Homo sapiens: one gene and its partners. The protein of the gene in region 2 purifies or fractionates together with the protein of the main gene of each other region. This does not show direct contact. Each region holds a gene or a part of one and is shown on either strand. Other genes may lie near its edges.

Evidence for each region.
Region 1: the proteins of RPL26L1 (region 2) and NSA2 purify together in Homo sapiens (affinity purification with mass spectrometry; 3 studies listed by BioGRID and IntAct, with this or other methods). This does not show direct contact.
Region 3: the proteins of RPL26L1 (region 2) and DHX8 purify together in Homo sapiens (affinity purification with mass spectrometry; 3 studies listed by BioGRID and IntAct, with this or other methods). This does not show direct contact.
Region 4: the proteins of RPL26L1 (region 2) and NIFK purify together in Homo sapiens (affinity purification with mass spectrometry; 3 studies listed by BioGRID and IntAct, with this or other methods). This does not show direct contact.
Region 5: the proteins of RPL26L1 (region 2) and RSBN1 purify together in Homo sapiens (affinity purification with mass spectrometry; 3 studies listed by BioGRID and IntAct, with this or other methods). This does not show direct contact.
Region 6: the proteins of RPL26L1 (region 2) and NOL12 purify together in Homo sapiens (affinity purification with mass spectrometry; 3 studies listed by BioGRID and IntAct, with this or other methods). This does not show direct contact.
Region 7: the proteins of RPL26L1 (region 2) and NPM1 purify together in Homo sapiens (affinity purification with mass spectrometry; 3 studies listed by BioGRID and IntAct, with this or other methods). This does not show direct contact.

Annotation. Positions count from the first base shown.
Region 1 is NC_000005.10:74,773,749-74,777,248, forward strand, and holds part of NSA2 (ribosome biogenesis protein NSA2 homolog), read left to right. Parts: intron 1-119; coding exon 120-312; intron 313-2,855; coding exon 2,856-2,923; 3' UTR 2,924-3,500. UniProt on the Homo sapiens protein: Involved in the biogenesis of the 60S ribosomal subunit. May play a part in the quality control of pre-60S particles.
Region 2 is NC_000005.10:172,965,924-172,969,423, reverse strand, and holds part of RPL26L1 (ribosomal protein uL24-like), read right to left. Parts: intron 966-3,500; coding exon 825-965; intron 12-824; coding exon 1-11.
Region 3 is NC_000017.11:43,490,475-43,493,974, forward strand, and holds part of DHX8 (ATP-dependent RNA helicase DHX8), read left to right. Parts: intron 1-690; coding exon 691-776; intron 777-1,708; coding exon 1,709-1,818; exon of another isoform or gene 1,819-1,900; intron 1,901-2,187; exon of another isoform or gene 2,188-2,206; coding exon 2,207-2,566; intron 2,567-2,970; coding exon 2,971-3,115; intron 3,116-3,208; coding exon 3,209-3,412; intron 3,413-3,500.
Region 4 is NC_000002.12:121,730,376-121,733,875, forward strand, and holds part of NIFK (MKI67 FHA domain-interacting nucleolar phosphoprotein), read right to left. Parts: intron 1,830-3,500; coding exon 1,721-1,829; intron 730-1,720; coding exon 518-729; intron 1-517.
Region 5 is NC_000001.11:113,795,477-113,798,976, reverse strand, and holds part of RSBN1 (lysine-specific demethylase 9), read left to right. Parts: intron 1-940; coding exon 941-1,614; intron 1,615-2,673; coding exon of another isoform or gene 2,674-2,676; exon of another isoform or gene 2,677-3,500. UniProt on the Homo sapiens protein: Histone demethylase that specifically demethylates dimethylated 'Lys-20' of histone H4 (H4K20me2), thereby modulating chromosome architecture.
Region 6 is NC_000022.11:37,689,343-37,691,658, reverse strand, and holds part of NOL12 (nucleolar protein 12), read right to left. Parts: intron 963-2,316; coding exon 865-962; intron 486-864; coding exon 323-485; 3' UTR 1-322. UniProt on the Homo sapiens protein: Multifunctional RNA binding protein that plays a role in RNA metabolism and DNA maintenance. Participates in the resolution of DNA stress and the maintenance of genome integrity by localizing to sites of DNA insults.
Region 7 is NC_000005.10:171,390,849-171,394,348, forward strand, and holds part of NPM1 (nucleophosmin), read left to right. Parts: intron 1-456; coding exon 457-576; intron 577-857; coding exon 858-951; intron 952-1,861; coding exon 1,862-1,968; intron 1,969-2,065; coding exon 2,066-2,130; intron 2,131-3,500. UniProt on the Homo sapiens protein: Involved in diverse cellular processes such as ribosome biogenesis, centrosome duplication, protein chaperoning, histone assembly, cell proliferation, and regulation of tumor suppressors p53/TP53 and ARF.

The DNA of each region.
Region 1 (3,500 bases), about 98 Mb from region 2:
TGACATTATTCAACCATAGTTTTTTGGAGATGGTTGAAAAAGATAAGCGAAAACGACCACTACTCATCACTGTTAACATTTTGGACGTAAACATTCTTATGTTGTGTTTGACTTACTAGGGCTTGCGTTTCAAGAAAGCCCATGTAACACATCCTGAACTGAAAGCCACCTTTTGCCTACCAATACTTGGTGTAAAGAAGAATCCCTCATCCCCACTGTATACAACTTTGGGTGTTATTACCAAAGGTACTGTCATTGAAGTAAATGTGAGCGAATTGGGCCTTGTGACACAAGGAGGCAAAGTTATTTGGGGTAAGTGAATTTTTGAATACAGGGCTGCTGTGTTCTGCAGTACTAATAGAAATACTATTCAAGTTGATGTATTAATAAAATATACAGCAAATTTTTTTAATGCAGTAGAGCTAAAACACTGTAAATCAGATGTAAATATTTAGTAAAAAATACTTTATAGAAAAAGTTGTTATAAATACAATTGTTTTAAAATTTAGCTTACTGGTTTTAGTTACATAAGGTGTAATACATTCTGCTAGATTTATTTTTATCCTTTTTAGCCAGGCACAGCAGCTCACGCATGTAAATCCCAGCACTTTGGGAGGCTGAGGCGGGTGGATCACCTGAAGTCAGGAGTTTGAGACCAGCCTGGCCAACATGGCAAAACCCCACCTCTACTAAAAATACAAAAAAATCAGCCGGGTGTGGTGGCGAGCACCTCTAATCCCAGCCACTTGGGAGGCTGAGGCAGGAGAATCACTTGAACTCAGGAGGCGGAGCTTGCAGTGAGCTGAGATTGTGCCACTGCACTCCAGACTGGGAGACAGAGCAAATCTCCATCTCAAAAAAAATTTTTTTAACCTTTTTAATAAAAATTATTATAAGGGAAGCAGATGCAAAGTTATAACTAAGAAATATTATAAGAAAATAGAATAAATTAACCATGAGCAGAGGAAGGGAGGCATATATCAAACATATTTTAAAAGTGAGGTCAGCTTACATGAAGTATTAGCCAATGACTAAAGATGTCTTCCGTAAGAAAAAATTTCTTTTGCCACAACTTTATATTATGTAAATACTTCTTATATTTACATGCTAACATTAAGAGAAAATACCTATTACATTTAAAGAAATAGAACTATCTGTCCCACGTAGGTAAACTGATCATTGAAACTGCCAGGAGCGGTGGCTCAGCCTGTAATCCCAGCACTTTGGGAGGCTGAGGCGGACAGATCATCTGCAGTCAGGAGTTCAAGACCAGCCTGGCCAACATGGTGAAACCCCATCTCTACTAAAAATACACAAATTAGCCAGGTGTTGTGGCCCACACCTGTAATCCCAGCTGCTCCGGTGGCTGAGGCAGGAGAATCGCTTGAACCTGGGAGGTGGAGCTTGCAGTGAGCTGAGATCGTGCCATTGCACTCCAGCCTGGATGACAGAGCGAGACTCTGTCTCAAAAAGTAATAATAATAATTGAAAGTGATTTAACACAGTTTAGTTCGTTCTGTTAATTCCCATTAACAGGTCTCAGAAATCATGTAGAAGCTTCCAGGCTTTAAAAAGCCCCCTCGCTATCTGGGCGCAGTGGCTGACACCTATAATCCCAGCACTTGGGGAGGCCGAGGCAGGCGGTTCACTTGAGACTGGAGTTGGAGACCAGCCTGGCCAACATGACAAAACGCCGTCTCTACTAAAAATACAAAACAATTAGCCAGGTGTGGTTGTGGGTGCCTGTAATTCCAGCTACTCGGGAGGCTGAGGCAGGAGAATCACATGAACCTGGAGCTTGCAGTGAGCTGAGATCATGCCACTGCACTCCGGCCTGGGAGACAGAGCAAGCCTCCATCTCAAAAATAAGTAAAATAAAAATATTTTGATCTTTTTTAATAAAAATTCTTTATTACAAGGGAAGCAGATGCAAAGTTATAACTAAAAAAAATTGTAAAAAAAAAATAGAATAAATTAACCATGAGCCGAGGGAGGCATACAACATATAATCACACTAGATCAGTAATAATTAAAACAGAAATGTGTCATGCAGTAATTTTAAACGCCCTCATTTGCTTAGTTTTCTACCTTTAGTACCCAGATCCAATTTCTTTGAAAGGGAAGAATACACGCTACAACTTCTTCAGTCATTGGTTTATACTTCATGTCAGCTGACCTCAGTTTTAAAATATGTTGTTACCTTGACTTGAAACTCATTTGAAACTTGATACATTTTCCAGGAAGAATTATGTGAAAAAGTGACAATGCTCAGGTCAATCCACAAAAGCCTGTTAATGCAATGTACTAATAACATGGAGCTGGCCATTATTTGCAAAAACACTATTTGTATGAAAATTGTATTCAGAACTCAAATTTGTCCTTAAATGATTGAATTTTGTAAAATCTCATTTATCCTTTATGGTTCATTTCTTATTTATTGAAAGTGGTAATTAGAAATATTTTAGGCATGGCTGGGCGCAGTGGCTCACACCTATAATCACAGCACTTTGGGAGGCCAAGGCAGGCGGATCATTTGAGCTCAGGAGTTCGAGCCCAGCCTGGGCAACATGGCAAAACCACATCTCTACAAAATACAAAAACAAAAAAATTAGCCAGGCAGTGGCGTGTGCCTGTGGTCCCAGCTACCCGGAAGACTGAGTGAGGAGAATCGCTTGAGCCCAGGAGGCAGAGGTTGCAGTGAGCCAGATCACGCCACCACACTGCAGCCTGGGGAATAAGAGTGAAACCCTGTATTAAGACAAAAAGAAAAAAAAGGCAAAAGTTATATTCTTTAAAATTAATTTTTATTAGCTAACAACCCTCCCTTTTCCCTTTTTTGGTTTTGTTTTCCTTAGGAAAATATGCCCAGGTTACCAACAATCCTGAAAATGATGGATGTATAAATGCAGTCTTACTGGTTTGACAGCAATTTCATATATAATTATTGAGGACTACACACCAATTGAAGAAACTGCCATTACTGTGATGTTTCTGAATACTACCAAACAGCCATACATGTCTGCAATGAAGAGATTTATTAAATTGTAAACATTAAAGTGGTCCAGTTTTATAAATGGTCTTTATTTTGAAATACGCTTTGACCCCATGTTCATAAAACTGAATGATTGAAAAAAAGCAAATATACAAATATCCTACTTCATCAATATCTGCATTTGTGAGTGGGTATTCAGCAATTTCCTGAAAAAACCACCAGTGTTCATTGAAAATGCCTTTCAAAAAGGTTAATACACAATTATGTGTCTGAGAATTTAACTGAAGTATCTTCAAAATCTCGTTAATCATTAATCCTAAAAAAGGTAGGTAGCATTAATACAGATGTTAAGTTTATAGTGTTTGTTTACACTAGAAGTATGTGAGAAGACACTAAAAGTTCAGAAATCTTAGAGAAATCTTTTCACCTGTGAAATCCAGTACAGCAAAGGTCTAGTGAATTCACATTCTAAACATTTTTTTCATCTCATTTACCATGTATAATAATA
Region 2 (3,500 bases):
GTGATAACCACCTGTTGGGAGTGAGAAAACAGGTCTTTATTTCTGCATCCCCACCAGCTATTGAGCAATATAGACATCATAAGTTAAGTAAGACCTCAGCCATTCAGCTTTTAAGGAACTGAAACTCTGGAAGGAAAACAGACCCTGTAACACAATACAAAATAGGAACACAAAGGAAAAATAGCATGTTCCACTAGGTAGGCATGAGGGCTACAGGAAGATATATTCTCTCTTATTCCTCTGAATATTATGTGGTAGGGGAAGTGATGCCTAGAACACTTGGAAGCCTCTTGCAACCAGCTTAAAGACACAGCCATCGGCCGGCCATGATGGCTCACACCTGTAATCCCAACACTTTGGAAAGCCGAGGCGGGCGGATCACGAGGTCAGGAGATCGAGACCATCCTGGCCAACATGGTGAAACCCCATCTCTATTAAAAATATAAAAATTAGCTGGGCGTGGTGGTGTGTGCCTGTAGTCCCAGCTACTTGGGAGGCTGAGGCAGGAGAATTGCTTGAACCCAGGAGGTGGAGGTTGCAGTGAGCCGAGATCGCACCACAGCACTCCAGCCTGGTGACAGAGCGAGCATCCGTCTCAAAAAAAAAAAAAAAAAAAAAAAGACACAGCCATCACCAAGAAAGGCAAAACAGAAAAGAGAAGAGAAGAAAAATCTGGATCCTTGATGATATCACAAAGCTACTGAATCAATCAAGTCCACCTGGCCTGCCTCAGCCAACTGTGCAGGGAGTACCAAAACACCAATAACTTTGAACAGTATTGACACACTCCATGGCTGCTACTGCCACTCAGTCCTTGACCATACCTTGCTTGGGTGAATGCCCACGTGGACAGTTGTGCCGTTGGCCTTCTCACGCTGCACCCGCTCGATGTAGATGACATATTTCTTTCTGTACACCTGGACTACCTTGCCAATTTGCTGACCTTTGTAGTGTCCTCGAACTACCTAAGAGAAAATACAAAAGAGAATCCCCCTCCATTTGTAGTGCATGATCATAAAGAGGAAGCTAACCATCAGGAACACATGGGCTAAACATATAACTTTGTCAAAAGCAGCTTAATCCTGGCAGTCAAAAATTAGCTACTTTTCTGATATAAATCTGTGTTGTGCTATGGTTGGGTGGAGATTTTTTACCTGGATCCCACAGAAATGTGCGATATGAGCTTTAGAGGAAAAAGGAGAATACAAAACTACATATAGAATATACTCTGAACTATATATATATACATATATATGTCAAGTATCCCTTATTCGAAATGCTTGAGACCAGAAGTGTTTTGGATTTAGGGTTTTTGGGATTTTGGAATATCTGCATTACTAGCTAAGCACCCCAAATCTGAAAATCTGAAATCCCAAAAGCTCCAAAGAACACTTCCTTTGACCATCACGTTGACAAAGTCTCAGATTTTGGAGCATTCTGAATTTGAGATACTCAAACTATATGAGTGTATGTGTGTGTGTATATATATAATATATATTACATATGTGCGTATATGTATTTATATGTCATATATACATACACGTATCATATACATACACATATGTACTTATATGTAACATACATATATGTCATACATACATATATGTACTTATATGTCATATATACATATATGTGTATACATACGTATATATGTGTATATATGTATATATACACACACATTTCATATATATAGCATGACACAGTGGGATAAAATATATATATAAATATTGGTAACAGCTGCCATTAGGCAGGAAGCAGGATTACAGATGACTGATTTTTAGATTTATATTCTTCTAAATTTCAACATTTCTACATTTAATACAAATATTTTAAAGTCAGAAAAAAAATTTTAAATCTCACAGACTGTTTTACTGTACTAAAAATCTACTCTATTCAAAAACCAACTAGATTAGGGTTTCCTTGAAAGCAAGAGCTTATTTATTTATTTATTTATTTTTGACACGGAGTCTCGCTCTGTTCCCCCAGGCTGGAGGGCACTGGCATGATCTTGGCTCACTGCAACCTCCACCTCCCAGGTTCAAGTGATTCTCCTGCCTCAGCCTCCCAAGTAGCTGGGATTATAGGCACGCACCAGCAGGCCTGGCTAATTTTTGTATTTTTAGTAGAGACCAGGTTTCGCCATATTGGCCAGGCTGGTCTCGAACTCCTGACCTCAAGTGATCTGCCTGCCTCGGCCTCCCAAAGTGCTGGGATTACAGGTGTGAGCCACCATGCCCAGCCACAAGAGCTTATTAAACACCATGCATGGGGGCCGGGCACGGTGGTTCACACCTGTAATCCCAGCACTTTGGGAGGCCAAAGCCGGTGGATCATGAGGTCAAGAGATCGAGACCATCCAGGCCAACATGGTGAAACCCTGTCTCTACTAAAAATACAAAAATTAGCTGGGCGTGGTGGTGGGCGCCTGTAGACCCAGCTACTCGGGGGGCTGAGGCAGGAGAATCACTTGAACCTGGAAGGCGGAGGTTGCAGTGAGCTGAGATGGTGCCACTGCACTCCAGGCTGGCGACAGAGCGAGACACCGCCTCAAAAAAAAAAAACCACCAGGTACGATGTGACTCTGATTAATAAGCATAGAGGAGATACCACATATAAAGAACTAGAGAACCCCAATACTCCTAAAATGTCTACGTATAGCTTGTTTGGCTTATTTTCCAAGGCGATTTTTAGGTTGAAGAGGACAATCATATCTCAGTGAAAAATCTACCACAGACTACATGACCAGAGACTCTCAGGACACACCTGGAAGAAGTCTTGTTAATACCATCAAGACTGAAGAAATACACACATACACACTTTTTTTAAGAGACAGGGTTTCACTATGCTGCCCAGGCTGGTCTCAAACACCTGAGCTCAAGAGATCCACCCACCTTGGCCTTCCAAAGTGCTGGGATTACATGTGTGAGCCACTGCACCTGGCCAAGACTGAAGAAAGATCTTAGGCCGGGCATGGTGGCTCACAGCTGTAATCCTGGTACTTTAGGAAGCTCAGGCAGGTGGACTGCTTGAGTCCAGGAGTTGGAGACCAGCCGAGGCAACATAGCAAGACCCCGTCTCTACAAAAAAAAAAAAAAAAAAAAAAAAAAAAATAGTTAGCCAGACATGGTGGCATGCGCCTATGATCCCAGCTACTCGGGAGGCTGAGGTGGGAGGATCACTTGAACCCAGGAGGTTGAGTCTGCAGCAACCTGTTTTTGCACCACTGTACTCCAGCCTGGGTGACAGAGTGAGATCCTGTCTCAAAATAAAATAAAATAAAAAATTAATTTAAAAAATTTTTAAAAAGAGAAGTGGACAACCTCTGGACATAGTGAAGAGGAAGACAGGAGACAGGATAAGACTAAGTCGGCTGGTCGACTAGACTGGAGAGGTGAGGATGAAGAGGGAAGGATGATACTCAGAGTCTGGCTTGGGCAACCAGGTGGATGGCAATGCCATTGCCAGATGCAGAGATCATAGGGGAAGCCCCGTATTTTAGG
Region 3 (3,500 bases), on a different chromosome or scaffold from region 2:
TTCCAGCTGAGCTTAGCTTCTAGAATGGTGTAGGTTTTGAACATCCTGTAAATTGCATTTGTTTTCCTCTCAGCAGTTGCTGAGCAAGTAAATGTTCCAGTAAGATTTTTCAAATGGGCTGGGCCTAGCGGCTCACTGCTGGAATCCCAGCACTTTGGGAGGCCAAGGTGGGAGTATCACTTGAGCCCAGGAGTTTTAGACCAGCCTGGGCAACATAGAGAGACCTCATCTCTACAAAAAAATAAAAAAATTAGCCAGGCATGATGGCGTGCCTCCGTAGTTCCAGCTACTTGGGAGGCTAAGGAAGGAGTGTTGCTTGAGTCCAAAAGGGTGAAGCTGCAGTGAGCCATAGTTGCACCAATGTACTTTAGCCTGAGTGACAGAGGTTTTTTTCCCCGTTTCAAGGGGAAAAAAAATTTCAAACGACTTAAGACAAAATAAAAAAGATAAGACATAACCCAATGAGTATTGCTACACTCCTCTTTCTGCTACATTTCGAGATAGTTTGTGATCAATGTATTTAGAAAATTAAATTACATTTATAGTAACAGGTATGATTAATATATAGCAAAATGCCATGTTCTGTTTCAGTTTGATACAAATCTATTGTTGAAGTTATTTTGTTAATCATTAATAATATTAAATATATATCTCTTTTTTTAACCCCTTCATGCTCTTTAATGAAACAAGATCCAGTTGTTAAACCTAAAACAGAAAAAGAAAAGCTGAAGGAACTCTTCCCAGTCCTTTGCCAACCGGACAACCCTTCTGTTCGGGTACTGATACCATTTTAAGAGTGTCTACTATAAATATATATTCTCAACCCCTTTTCTTTGTCTCATAGTAATTTTATTAATTTTAAGTTTGCCTTTGTTGTAACTTATTTTTAAGAATGAAAGTGTTTGATCACTCCCTGAGCATGTACTATGTATTGAATTTGTTAAGGGGTTCTGAGAATGATATTCAAGGGAAATGAGATTGGGAATTTGGGGAAGTAGTGATTAGGAATATGAAATAAGGTTCTGGAACAGATGCCTAAGGTGTGAAATTAGATTTTTTTTTTTTGCTCTGTTACTTGTTAAAGGTCTAATTTTTAAAGCATTTTGATTTTTAAATTTCATTTTAATAAATATTTATTGAGTACTTACTGTATGCCAAACACTGTTCTAAGTACCTGGATAACAGCAGTGAACAGAACAGACAAGAGTTTCAGCCTTTGGAGATTATATCCTAATTTTGGGGTAGGGAGCAGGAAATAAACATGTAAACATTCTGGTGGGGAGGAGATAGGCAATAAACAAACAAATAGGTATGTAACATAGCAGATAGCAATAAGGGCTATTTAAAAAAATAAAGCTGGAGTGGGGGTAGGGAGGAAGAGTGCAGAGGGAGAGTTGCTTTTTAAAATTTTTAACACCTGTTTTCTATTAATATAATCATCACTTGCATTCTTTCATGGCAGGGATGATTAATATCTAACTGCCTTTCATAGAATTCTATTAAGGACAGAGGGGATTTGTCAAATGTAGCAGTAATTCTCAAGAGCCTTTTTTCCATTTCTTCTGCATCTATCCTGAATCAAGTTTGAAATCTCTGCCCCTCTTCTATTTCCCTCACATAGTGATTAGTGATTTATAGATGTACCTGAGGTACATACAGATTCTTGAGTAGTTTTTTTTCCTAACTTTGCCGGCCTCTACCTCTGCAGACCATGTTGGATGAAGATGATGTGAAAGTTGCTGTGGATGTCCTGAAAGAACTGGAAGCTTTAATGCCCAGCGCAGCAGGCCAGGAGAAGCAAAGAGATGCTGAACACCGGTTTGTCCTTAGTGTCCTGTCCTTTGGAAGTTTAGGGTACTGTGACAGTTGAATATTATGGACCAGCCAAGCAAAATTTTGGGCAAGTTTACAGAATCTGGACTGGTCATATATCATATTGTTGGATCTGTTTTCATTGCTTCCTGCTAAGTGTATGTAGCAAATGCTAGGTTGTTCAGAATATAGAAGTCAGGGTTGAAAGAGGCTGAATATGTTTGTGGCTCAATTCTTTATTGGCTTATAGGGATGTCGTAGTTATTGAAACTCTAATTCAGTTCAAAACCTAGTGGGTACCTACCATGTGCATGGCACTGTACTGGGTGCTTGGGGATGCGAAGATGAAATCGGATTGGTTTCTTTTTTAAACAGGTGCTTATTGATTTGTTAGGGACAGGACAAAGAAGAAGAAGCGGAGTCGAAGCCGAGATCGAAACCGAGATCGAGACAGAGATAGGGAACGAAACCGAGATAGAGACCACAAGCGGAGACACCGATCCCGCTCTCGATCACGTTCCAGGACCCGGGAGAGGAATAAAGTGAAGTCTAGATATCGGTCCAGGAGCAGGAGTCAGAGTCCCCCCAAAGACCGGAAGGACCGGGACAAATATGGAGAGCGGAATCTGGATAGATGGCGGGATAAGCATGTGGACCGCCCTCCTCCAGAAGAGCCCACCATTGGTGACATTTATAATGGCAAAGTTACCAGCATCATGCAGTTTGGTTGCTTTGTGCAGCTGGAAGGACTAAGGTAATGACTGGTGCTCTTTTGTTCACACCAGTGATGGGCAGAATTTCTTTTATCACTGAGGATGTTCACATTCTAAAAAGTTACTTTGATTAATGACACTTTAGTCAAATCAGCCATACATGGTTCTTAGAAATTGACTCTTTTGAAATGTTACAGAGCCATTTATTCCTTTCTCTGTCTTCAGGAGATCTGTCCTTTGCTTGTTGGGACAGATAGAATTTGCTTCCCCACCCCATGTCTCCCCATGAGGAGAGTGTTAATACTATTTTATTGTTTGACCACCTTCATGGTACTTTTCTCTTGAGTTTAAGACCATTTTCTTTTGTTAGTTCCAGTAAGGGTAGAAATTGGTTGGGGGAAAAATATTTTTTGGCATGTTCCAGATGTGTCTGGCTCTCCCTCAGGAAGCGGTGGGAAGGCCTGGTGCACATCTCTGAGCTCCGGCGGGAGGGTCGTGTGGCCAATGTAGCTGATGTCGTGAGCAAAGGCCAGAGGGTCAAAGTCAAAGTGCTGTCCTTCACTGGGACCAAGACCAGCCTGAGCATGAAGGTAGGTGAGATGGTCAGCCTGTTCTTACATGTGATGGCCAAGGGAATGGAAGAGGACAGCAAGTGAGACAGCTCCCTTGTTTTTGTGCCTTAGGATGTGGATCAAGAGACTGGAGAAGATCTAAACCCAAATAGACGGCGAAATCTTGTCGGGGAGACCAATGAGGAGACCTCAATGCGGAATCCTGATAGACCCACTCACTTGTCCCTTGTCAGTGCTCCTGAAGTAGAGGACGACTCACTGGAACGCAAGCGCCTCACCCGAATCTCTGACCCAGAGAAGTGGGAGATCAAACAGGTTGGGGCCTTTAGTTTTCATGACCAGATAGTCATTCAGCATGTAGCATGGTGCTTAGGGGTGTGCCCTGGAGCACGATGGCCTGGGA
Region 4 (3,500 bases), on a different chromosome or scaffold from region 2:
TACAAAATTAGCCGGGGTGGTGGCGCATGCCTGTAATGCCAGCTACTCGGGAGGCTGAGGCAGAAGAATCGCTTGAACCCCGGAGGCGGAGGTTGCGGTGAGCCAAGATCACACCATCGCACTCCAGCCTGGGCAACAAGGGTGAAACTCCATCTCAAAAAAGAAAAAAAAGTTTAGTCAAAAAACTGGCTGGGCACGTGGCTCATGCCTATTATTCCAACACTTTGGGACGCTGAGGTGGGTGAATCACCTGAGGTCAGGAGTTCGAGACCAGCCTGGCCAACGTGGAGAAACCCCGTCTCTACTAAAAATACAAAAATTAGCCAGACGTGGTGGTGTGCACCTGTAATCCCAACTACTTGGGAGGCTAGAGGCAGGAGAATTGCTTGAACCCAGGATGTGGAAGTTGCAGTGAGTCAAGATTGTGGTAAGTGCTAGGCTAGGTACTTTACAAGGTACAAAGCTGCCCCCTCCCCTCCCCACAACAAACCACAAAAAAGATTTCACGAATATTTACCAAAGAAGGAAAATCATAGTCAATTCCTTTTTTAGCTAATTTCTTCCTGAGTAATCTTTCTTTCTTTTTAAATCGCTCCTCCATCCGTAGCTTTTGTGTTAGTGTCCGATTCCGATTATACCGTTTCACTGATGGATATGATGGCTGCTTAAATGGAATATTCCAGTCTTTAAAGAGTTCTTTATGTACTTTTTCAGGTGGCATAAAATGACCTATTTTCAAAAAGAAAAAAACATAAAGGTATTTTAATGTTAACTTTAGAATCTCCGCAGTGCCATTCCTCACACAACAAAATGATATGGCTGGGTACAGTGGCTCACACCTGTAATCCCAGCTTCTCTCACAGCAATGCGAAGTGAATAGAGAGACAAGACCTGGGCAGCCTTGTCAGCTGTGAACTTGGGTACCTAAGACGGCCACATGCCACCATGGGCACAGGGAAGCCAGAAACTTCGCTTTGCCTCCCAAGGGCAGCAGGATCTGGACAGGGATGCTCTCTGCACCCTATGGACTGCAGGGTAGGGGGCTTCACTGGCTTCTTTCTGCAGGATAAATTACTCATCTGGTGCGTCACTCCTCCACTCCCTCTGGCTTCTCTCGTGTGGAAGAGCTACAGCCATTGCCATTTAGACAGATTTTGCAACGCGATTCCTGACCTTTGATGCTATCCCCACTGCCCTCAGGATAAATTCGGAACTCGCTGACTTAGAAGGCCTTCAGTAACCTGACCTGAAGCCTCTTCTTGCTCCTTCATCTCTTGCTACTTTTCCTCACATTCTCTCACAGCTGAATGGTTAGGCATCATTGGTTTGGCATTCACTGTCCCTCAGCCAGGAATGGTCTGTCTTCACTCCTGTCCCCTTCACCTGGCTCACTCCTGTTTAGTCTTCAGGTTTCAATGTCAACTATACTTCCTTAGAGAAGCCTTTCACAGCCCATAAGGATGGGTTAGCTGCTCCTCCCATGTGTCCCCAAGGTAACTTGTCCAGTTCCATTTAGGGTAAAAACAGCTCTCAGGCTAGATTTTAAAATTCCAATTAGAATCTGCCTGCAACATACACTGAAATCCTTGCACCATTCTGTAAGACTCATCCCAGAGATGAAGTGGCATGTCCAAGCAGCTAGGCAAGCCGCCCTTCCCACCACAGTCACCCACCAACAGCAGGCACCCAGGCAACCCTGCGGTAAGACAGGAGCACTTACACTCCAAGAGTCTTTCACCAAACAGGTAGTTGTTCATTGTTTCAGCAACTATTTTGGCAACATCCTCAGACTCAAACTCCACAAATGCATAGCCTTTGCTATTTCCAGTCTGCAACAGAGAAACCGCCACAAAAAGTAGAACAATTAAATTTGAATGCGTCATCAAATTCCTAAAATGCCATTATTTTAAATAATGTATATTAGCCCCTTATCAAATATTACGTACGACACGCTTAATTCTAACTTCAATTCACATATTCCGGGGACTGTTATGGGAAAAAGAAAAGATGCACGAGTCTGAACACACAGCTGATTTTCTGGTATTCTTGGGATTTTGGTTACATATGATAAATACACAATTCCTATGGCTGGAATTTATTCAGTAACAACACTCCGTGATATTAAAAAAGTCTTCAACTTAAAAGTCACATGGCTTAACAGTGGGAATCAGGAGGCTCATTTCCAGCACCAGTTGTGTCAGTAACAAGCAACTTGGACACTTCCACAACTGAGTCTCAGCTTAATTATCTTCAACAGGTGGATTCTGGGAAAAATTTAAATCCCTCAAAATCCATTTATAATCCCAACACTCAAAAGAGAGGGGAAGGCCAGGCGCGGTGGCTCACCCCTGCAATCTCAGCACTTTGGGAGGCCGAGGGTGGATCATCTGAGGTGAGGAGTTCAAGACCAGCCTGGTCAACACGGTGAAACCCCATCTCTACTAAAAATATAAAATATTCACTTTGGGAGGCCAAGGAGGGTGGATCTCAAGGTCAGGGGTTTGAGACCAGCCTGGCCAACATGGTGAAACCCCATCTCTACTAAAAATACAAAAAATTAGCTGGGCATGGTGACATGTACCTGTAATCCCAGCTACTCAGGAGGCTGAGCCAGAAGAATCACTTGAACCTGAGAGGCAGAGGTTGTAGTGAGCTGAGATCGCGCCACTGCACTCCAGCCTGGGCAACAGAATAAGACTCCATCTCAAAAAAGAAAAACTAGGCCAAGAGGGGTGGCTCATGCCTGTAATCCCAGCACTCCAGGAGGCCGAGGTGGGTGGATCACCTGAGGTCAGGAGTTCGAGACCAGCCTGGCCAAAATGGTGAAACCGTGTCTCTACTAAAAATACAAAAATTAGGCCGGGCACAGTGGCTCACACCTGTAATCCCCACACTTTGGGAGGCCGAGGCAGGTGGATCACCTGAGATTGGGAGCTCAAAATCATCCTGACCAATATGGTGAAACCCCATCTCTACTAAAAATACAAAAATTAGCTGGGTGTGGTGGTGCACGCCTATAATCCCAGCTATTCAGGAGGCTGAGGCAGGAGAATCACTTGAATCCGAGAGGCTGAGGGTGCAGTGAGCCAAGACTGTGCCACTGCACTCCAGCCTGGGCAACAGAGTGAGACTCCATTTAAAAAAAAAAAAAAAATTAGCCAGGCATGGTGGCAGGCACCTATAATCCCAGCTACTCGGGAGGCTGGGGCAGGAGAATCACTTGAATCCGGGAGGCGGACATCGCAGTCAGCTGAGGAACTGTGCCACTGCACTCCAGCCCGGGCGACAGAGTGAGACTCCGTCGCAAACAAAACAAAACCAAAACAAAACAAAAAAAAAATGAATAGAATGAAATAGAAAATCAGCGCATCACACAAAACAAGTTTAAATATTGTCTCATTTGGCTTTTATTTCAGTTATGCTTACATGCATATGTATGTGTGCTGGTTTGTGCTGTAAAACTTTTTTTAAAACCCTCATCTTCTTTGTGATGGTAAAAA
Region 5 (3,500 bases), on a different chromosome or scaffold from region 2:
AAGCTTAAGGGAGCCCATAGCAGGAGTAGCTATCCAGATTGGGTGGGGAAGAAAAGGCTTTCTGAAAGAATGAGTCTAAGCATTTTGTAACCTTCTAATTTTTATGTCAGTTTTTTCATCTATAATATACTTTACAATGGCTGAGTAGTGTTTTATAATATGTAACTACCAGAGTTTAATCAGTCCCCTGTTATTAGACATTTAGGAGCATTCCCTGTTGTGTCGTTTTAAATAATACTGTAATGGATATCTTTATATAATCTTCAATTATTTTCTTAGATAACTTTTACTTGGAAGTGGAATTTCTGGGTCTGAGGATTAGAAATATTTTTTAAGACTTTTAACATGTATCATGAAATTGCCCTTCAGAAAGTTGTACCAGTTTATACTTCCAGCAGTAGTAGTTGAGAATGACCAGAAACCGCAGACTTTGCCAACTTGATAGGAAAAAATGATATCTCATGGCTTACTTTGCCTTTGTTGATTTACCTGTATGTATCATAGTAATTCATAGGCTGACAGCAAAATATGCCTAGCTTAAATTTAAATTTTATGATGATAACTGAACAAAAGAATCTATGTTGTTACATAGATTTCAGAATCATCATATTTAGCTATCGTATAATGTTTCATACCATTGCTATATCATGATTTATTTAACCATTCTCTGTTTTTTGGATGTGTGAATTATTTCTGATTTTTCTCCATTATCAGTAATATACTGCTTTGAAAAATGGATACCTTCAATTTTATTCTTTTCTTCAATCCAGAATATTATTATATTTAAGATCTCTGTCTCATTTGTTTTCTAAACACGTAAGTTGTAATAGCAAATTCAGAGAAATTGAGGATAGGCTATTTAATGAGATCAAGTACCTTAAGAAGCTTGTATGTTGACACTAGTCCTAGCAACTAACTTCTTTTTAATTATTGTGGCCAGAAACACCAGATGAAAATGGTAAAACCCAGAGAGCCGATGATTTTGTCTTGAAGAAAATAAAGAAGAAAAAGAAAAAGAAACACCGAGAAGACATGCGAGGAAGACGCCTTAAAATGTACAATAAGGAAGTACAAACCGTCTGTGCTGGCCTGACCCGCATCAGTAAAGAAATTCTCACCCAAGGACAAATAAATAGCACTTCAGGACTTAATAAGGAGTCCTTCAGGTATCTGAAAGATGAACAGCTGTGCCGATTAAATTTGGGTATGCAAGAATATCGGGTACCCCAGGGAGTACAAACACCTTTTATGACTCACCAGGAACATTCTATTCGTAGAAATTTCTTAAAAACAGGTACTAAATTTAGCAACTTTATTCATGAGGAACACCAGTCCAATGGTGGTGCTCTTGTCCTTCATGCTTACATGGATGAACTCTCATTTTTGTCTCCAATGGAGATGGAGAGATTTTCTGAGGAGTTTCTTGCTTTGACATTCAGTGAAAATGAGAAAAATGCTGCTTACTATGCTTTAGCAATAGTGCATGGAGCGGCTGCTTATCTCCCAGACTTCTTGGACTACTTTGCTTTTAATTTCCCCAACACTCCAGTGAAAATGGAAATTCTGGGCAAGAAAGATATTGAAACAACCACCATTTCAAATTTTCACACTCAGGTAAGATAAAAATTGTTGTTAAAAATTAGTAAATACGATTCTAAACAGAATTAACCTCTTTCTGTCGCACAGCACATACCAGCACATTTTTGATAACAAATTTATGGTAATAAAGGTGCTTCAAATTGTTTGTCTCTTCCTCTAATTGAAAAATCTTAATTACTGAGTTCGGGTGGGGCTTCTTCTTTACTGGAGGGAATGCTTTATACATGTTATACATCATTACAAATCTTTATGGAAAACTAGCTTGAAAACTTACCTGGTCTTTCACAAATCGGGTAATGTTAGTATGGAGGATGTGATTGAGATCTGTTAGTCTCAGGATAACTTTAGTTAAGATTTGCTTTTATATCATAATAAAACACGTGAGGGCATGGGCCTGTTTATATGCCAGGTTTTTGGAGTTTTTATATCTCTTTCAGTAACTTGTTGGCAGTCCATCCCAGAAATATACCCCATTTATGTGACTTGGAAGTGTCATTAGGAAGACCGCCATAGCCTCTGCTCCTTCTGCCTATACATTGTTGTAGGTGAAGACATTTTTTGAAGCCTTGCATGGGCAGCTAGGCTTAAGTCAGCAGGGAAACGTCTGCTTCTTAACCAGTGGTTTTAACCAAACATTTTTTTCAGTGAAGTTATTTTAGGGAATAAGAAGTTAATAATGTGTCCTAGTTTTTTTCTTACTTGCTTTTCTCGTAAGAATTGAATATAAATGGTCAGCTATAAGTTTCTGCAGTATATATTATAAATTCAACTTTAGTGGAGACTTTCACTTTTTAAACTTTTATGATTATATGTTCTGTTTTTTCAGGTTGTCTAGTAATTTGCTGCCATTCTTTTCCCTTAATATATATATATTTTTTTAGGTAAATAGATTGTTGCCGTAATAAGACTCTCAGCTGCCTGAATTATAGTGGTTTCAAGCCACTTAGATTTATTTGAAACCTCCTCTAACTTGAATCTTTTTAGTGAGTCTTACCATCTTTGCCTCCAATGAGGGGAGTATCCAGTTTAGATTTATGAGCTTCAGAATTTCTCTAATTGAAGTTCTCTCTGCAGTAGAGAGAGCAGGAGCAGCCAATGTGGAGAGGTCGCAAGATGGGGCTGCCCAAGATGTTGGAACACCATGTGCAATAAAGGGCTTCGTCTTGGATTTTGGCCTTATTACCACAACCAGGTACCGAAGTGCTGACTTTTGTAGTAGATTTTCTTTTTTCATTTTCATTTTTTTTTTAAGTTTTGCCCTTTGAAGGTCAAGGAATCCTATTTTTATAAATATTGCAGATGAGACTGAAAACATTTCTCCTAATATAGTCCATAATCCCCATAAGTTCCCTATTTAACAAGGAAAGATATTGCTGAGAGCAGAATCAACATGCTCTATCATTTTTTTAGTTTAGAAAAATGCAGCAAATTTTCTCTTTTGATAGACCAACAAGCATTTCTGAGAAATAAGCCAGAAATTTGGGGGAAAACTGTCCCAGTTTTGTAAGGGTGTCTTTTTAACATTCATATTAGTTAAAGTGGATCAAATTTGTATGTCAACAGACAGTATCCAGTCTAAATAGTTAATAAAAGAAAATATCTTGAAATATTCCCTGCTGATTTTTGTCCTCCAATTAATTTTTTAAAATGGAGCTGAAATTTAAATGACTGTACCAACAACTTACCTTGATACTTACTTTGAGATTTAAAAAATAACCACTTTTTAAGAACATTTCAGATTATGATTAAATTAGATATTAAACGCTTCAACCACATAAGAATATTGAGGACTGTTGAATGAGTCCTGTGCTCTGGTGGTCCTGGAACTTAATTTTATTTATGAATTTTCAGTCATTAGAGAAGAGTATGGTGTGGATATGGGAGGTTGGATTAGCCGACTA
Region 6 (2,316 bases), on a different chromosome or scaffold from region 2:
ATCAAGGACAAACAAATCACAAGCGCACAAATCTGATGAGTGCCAGGTGGGGTGCACATTTGGGAAGATGCCCCCACGTGGCTCTGAAGGCTCTTCCTGGGGGAGGCCTGCTCTCAGCTGCCTGCTCCTTCGGGAATTCAAACCCCAGGCAAAGGCAGCTGACCCCAGGCAAAGGCAGCTGGCCCCAGGCCAGAGAGGTCCTGGCTTCCCAACCTTGAGCTGTGCAGTCATTACCTAGGTGCAGGCTGGGCTACAGGGACAGCCAAGCTGAGCAAGGACAGGTCCCCGCAGCCTAGACTGGGGCACCGCTTCGTTCTCGGTCTCACTCCCCGCTGTGCCGTGCTTTGCCTGTGAGACGGCGGCGCTGGGCCTTGCTGGTACGAGGGGCCCTTGGGGGCTTTTTGGAGTCCTGGGCCCGTCGGGGATGTTTCCTCTTGACCTTTTTGCGGCTGTGTGCATGTAGTGATGCTGTGAGGGAGGAGATCCTAGGGGAGGGCAGAAAGCCTCAGTTTAAGATTGCATTGTGGGGTGACTCACCACCTGGCTCACGGAGGGGATGTCAGGACAGGTTGCGAATGCCAGGACCGCCAAGTTCATGCCAGAGTTGGCCTGCTCTACCTCCAGAGTGCCTGCCAGCAACTCAGCTCAGAGACACAGGCCCTTCACCCAGGCACGAAAAGCACTGGAGGTCAGACACTATCAGGGGTGGGTGGGACAGGACGGGGCAATGAGGAGAGGCAGAGGATCACTGGACAGGCAGAGGGCTGCTCCGGGCCCTACACCTGCTCCACACCACCCTAAGGGCCAGGTCACTACTGCCAGCCAGGAGGGGTGGGACCGGGGAGGCAGCAGGCCAAGACTCACCGCTGAGAGAGCAGGGGGTCTCTGGACTTCCTGGGCAAGGCTTTGGTTGGTTTCTCCGTGGATGACGCCTCCTCCTCAGACCTGTCTCCAGCCCCTCCCTAAAGAGGCACAAGACAATGACTTACATGGAGCAGTAGCTGGGGGGACCTGGGCTGGGCACCCCGAGCCACCATGGCTCTGGCAAGTGGTGGCGCGCCCTGCTGCATCACAGGCCTGGGTTGGGACTAGAGAAGGCTTCTGATGGAAGAAGTCTATCTGCCCTAAAGCAAGGATTACACAGGGGAAGGTCTGTTTCCAAACCCTTTCCTGCCCCTAGAAGCTTCCAGGACATACTTAAACATTCAGGAATGAAAATCCTAGCAAAACGGGGACAAGACTTGTCTTTGTATCAGAACTTGCAGAATAGTGAGCATAAAATGAAAGACCGGTGTGAGATCAGTATGGTTTTGTTTTGTTTTGTTTTTTGAGATGGAGTCTCGCTCTGTCACCCAGGCTGGAGTGCAGTGGCACAATCGTGGCTCACTGCAACCTGCGCCTCCTGAGTTCAAGCAATTCTCCTGCCTCAGCCTCCCGAGTAGCTGGGATTACAGGTGCACGCCACCATGCCTGGCTAAGTTTTTTTTGAGACGGAGTTTTGCTCTTTTTGCCCAGGCTGGAGTGCAATGGCACGATCTCGGCTCACCACAACCTCCACCTCCCAGGTTCAAGCTATTCTCCTGCTTCAGCCTCCCGAGTAGCTGGGATTACAGGCATGTCCCACCACACCCAGCTAATTTTGTATTTTTAGTAGAGACAGGGTTTCTCCACGTTGGTCAGTCTGGTCTCGAACTCCCAACCTCAGGTGATTCGCCCGCCTCGGCCTCCCAAAGTGCTGGGATTACAGGCATGAGCCACTGCGCCTGGCCCCCTGGCTAATTTTTTTACTTTTAATAGAGACGGGGTTTCACCATGTTGGCCAGGCTGGTCTCAAACTCCTGACCCCAGGTGATAACGCCCGCCTTGGCCTCCCAAAATGCCGGGATTACAGGCGTGAGCCACCATGCCTGGCCCTGAGATCAGTATGGATGTGATAGGGGAGTGGCTCCAGGACTTAAGAACACAGTAACCCACACAAGGAAATGTGTTTTATATCGTAATTGTGTGCATATATGTCCATAAATCCTTAGGCACACCCAGATACAACTCCAGTGGAAACAGCTGTCTCATGAAACAATATTTAACATGACACTTTCGGATATTTTCAATTATATTTTTTTTTTATGCTGATTGCAACCTACTCATGATTCACAACCCACAGGTTGAAAACCCACTTAGTGCACACAGACGTGCCAGGGCTGCGAATCGCACAAAGGGAACGATCACAACAAACGGCTACCTTTTGTGAAGCACTTATGACAGGGCTGGGCACTGTGCCAGGTGACTCACATGGATTAACCACTTTCACCCTCATAC
Region 7 (3,500 bases), 1.6 Mb from region 2:
AGTAGCTGGGATTACAGGCATGTGCCACCACACCTGGCTAATTTTTGTGTTTTTAGTAGAGACGAGGTTGTTACCATGTTGTCCAGGCTGGTCTCAAACTCCTGACCTCATGATCTGCCCGCCTCAGCCTCCCTAAGTGTTGGGATTACAGGCATGAGCCACCAAGCCCGGCCCTTTCCTATGCTTAGATGCACAAATACTGTGTTTCGGTTGCTTACAGTATTCAGTACAGTAACACTGTACAGGTTTGTAGCCTAGGTGTGTGTAGTAGGCTATACCATCTAGGTTTGTATAAGCACATTCTTATGATTGTACAAAGATGAAATTGTCTAACAACACATTTCTCAGAACCTAGCCCTGTGGTTAAGTGACGCATGGCTGCATATAACATTTAGTGGGGGGGTGTAAAATAGGTGGAACTCAAAAGTTGAAGTAGTATTTTTTTTTTGTTCACAGGTCAGTTTAGGGGCTGGTGCAAAGGATGAGTTGCACATTGTTGAAGCAGAGGCAATGAATTACGAAGGCAGTCCAATTAAAGTAACACTGGCAACTTTGAAAATGTCTGTACAGCCAACGGTAAGGGCACTTACATACTTTGGATGTTGTGTCAAGGTTTAATTCTGTTTTAAGGTAGGTTTGGTGTCATTTAGTTGTGCCAAGGAGATAGAAAGTGGTTCTTTATCTTCTGTCACTGGAGTTCGATGGTCAACTCTTGAACATGGGGGCTTCTGCTGCTACTTTTATCAGAGGTGGAAAAACAGGTTCACTGGTTTGTTGATTTGGCTTATGTGTTTGCCTGTAATGTTTATTGTTCATTTTCTTCACATGTTTAGTGATGAAAAATTTCTCCCTTCTAGGTTTCCCTTGGGGGCTTTGAAATAACACCACCAGTGGTCTTAAGGTTGAAGTGTGGTTCAGGGCCAGTGCATATTAGTGGACAGCACTTAGTAGGTATGTTATTTTTATATATTATACTACTTAGTTTGTCCTCTTTAGTGCAGTTGCTTGGTTCCCAGTTTGGACTTAAAGCATGGGTATAGTACTACTGTCTTTTTAATAGGTTCCAATGTGAGTCTAGAAATTGGAGAGGACAAATAAATTTTTGGGGCGGGGGGGAGAGGAAATCTTGCTGTCACCCAGGCTAGAGTACAGTGGCACGATCTTGGCTCACTGGAACCTCTCCGGGATTCAAGCGATCCTCCTGTCTCAGCCTCCCCAGTAGCTGGGGCCACAGACGTGCACCACCAAGTCCAGTTGCGTTTCATAGTTATAGTAGAGAAGGGGTTTCGTGATGTTGGCCAGGCCGATCTTGAACTCCTGGCCTTAACGTGATCTGCACGCCCTGGCCTCTCAAAGTGCTAGTATTACACGTGTCAGCCACTGTGCCTGGCCTAAAAATTATTTTTTAATAAAGACAGTCTCATTATAACGGCTGGAGTGCAGTGATGTGATCATAGCTTGCTATATCCTCGAACTGCTACTGGGTTCACCTCAGCCTCTGGAATAGCTAGAACTACAGGCACACTCCACGCCTGGCTAATTTTTTTTGTATATGTGCAGATGGGGTCTCAGTATGTTGCCCAGATTGGACTCTTGGCCTCAAGTGGTCCGCCTTGGCCTCCCCAAAGTGAGATTACAGGCATGAGCCACCCTCCCCAGGCTTCTTGCATTTAAAACCTGGCAGTGAACATTAGGCCTCAAAATACTTTTGTTAAAAAGTTCCTTTTCCCATGTGCTCTTTTTTTTTTTTTTTTTAAATAGAATAGAAGTCTCAGTTTTTAGAGTATTTACTATCAGTGTTCTTTTTTTTTCTGACTTCTTGCTGCTTGAGTTTTATAATGTCTAATAAATTGTATTTTAGCTGTGGAGGAAGATGCAGAGTCAGAAGATGAAGAGGAGGAGGATGTGAAACTCTTAAGTATATCTGGAAAGCGGTCTGCCCCTGGAGGTGGTAGCAAGGTTCCACAGGTAGAGATGGCAATTTTATTATAGGTTTTGTATTATAGCTTTTAGTTTGGTGATAGAACAGCTCTTGTTCATGAGTACGTATCTTTTCTTTTAAAAGAAAAAAGTAAAACTTGCTGCTGATGAAGATGATGACGATGATGATGAAGAGGATGATGATGAAGAGTAAGTATGATTTTAGAAACTTGATATACTTCCGGAATCTTGACAAAAAAAGGAATTTGACATAGTTATATGCATGAGGGTTTTATAAAAGTCATTTACAAAAAGCCATCCTATGTAATAGTTTATAATAAAAGGGCAGGTGGTCATCTGTTGTCAGTTTAAGTTAAATGAGCTGAGTTGAAAGGATATTGGGTCTGTGAGCCTTTACAATGCTGTGACTTGTGACTCTTCAGAAGGGTAGACTATAGTGTTTGTGAAGTTTGATTATGTCCCTTTGTTCTGAAGATTTAGTGGATGTGTTATACCCATCAAGCCTGGTATGTTTTATGGTGAGCAGTTAATGAGATTGGGTTGAAAGAAAATATGATTAAATAGCTCTATATTCATTTTACAAGTTGTTACTCAAGGTTTGTTATTCCCTAAAAGGATTTTGTCTTATGGTTTTATGTAGATATTTATTGACAAAAATAAGATTCTAAAAGGGATATTAAGATTTTCTTGGGATTTAAAATATGGTTGGAAACAATATTTGATGACTTTATATTAAACTAGATCAAACTATTGTTACAAACAGTTAATACGCACACTGGTATAAAGTACTGTTTATAATTGGTCTTATGTGTGCCAGTACCAGTAATGCATTGAATACTTTGATTTGGCTCTCAGCTTTGTCCTTCAGTTCTGAGGTTGGTCCATATGCATTTATTGAAAACAAATATAAGAACATGCACTTTAAAAGAGAACCTGCATGAAAGATCAAATTGGGAGTTTAGGTTTTAAGCTGGTGGTTCTTCAAAATCTTTGAGCATGACGATGAAGGCAGAAAACAGGAAAAAGGCCGAAAGAGCCGAAAGCTTAAAAATTCAAAGTATGACCAGGCGCAGTGGTTCACACCCGTAATCCTAACACCCAGCCAAGATGAGAGGATCTCTTGAGGCCAGCCCGGTCAAAATAGCAAGACCCAATCTCAAAAGAAAAATAAAAATTCAAAGTACTTGCATGTCAAACTTATAAATGAACGCAAACTTAAAGGTAGTATTTGACTGTTGCTGTTTTTGTTTTCTTTTTTTTTTTTTTTTTTTTTGAGATGGAGTCTCCAGTTGCTCAGGCTGGAGTGCGGTGGCGCCATCTCGGCTCACCACAACCTCTGCCTCCTGGGTTCAAGCGATTGTCCTGCCTCAGCCTCCCGGGTAGCTGGGACTGCAGGCTCGGGGCACCATGCCCTGCTAATTTTTGTATTTAGTAGAGACAGGGTTTCAGTATGTTGGTCCGGCTGGTCTTGAACTCCTAACCTCGTGATCTACCTGCCTCGGTCTCCCAAAGTGCTGGGATTGCAGATGTGAACCACTGCGCCCAGCCAAATTTTTGTA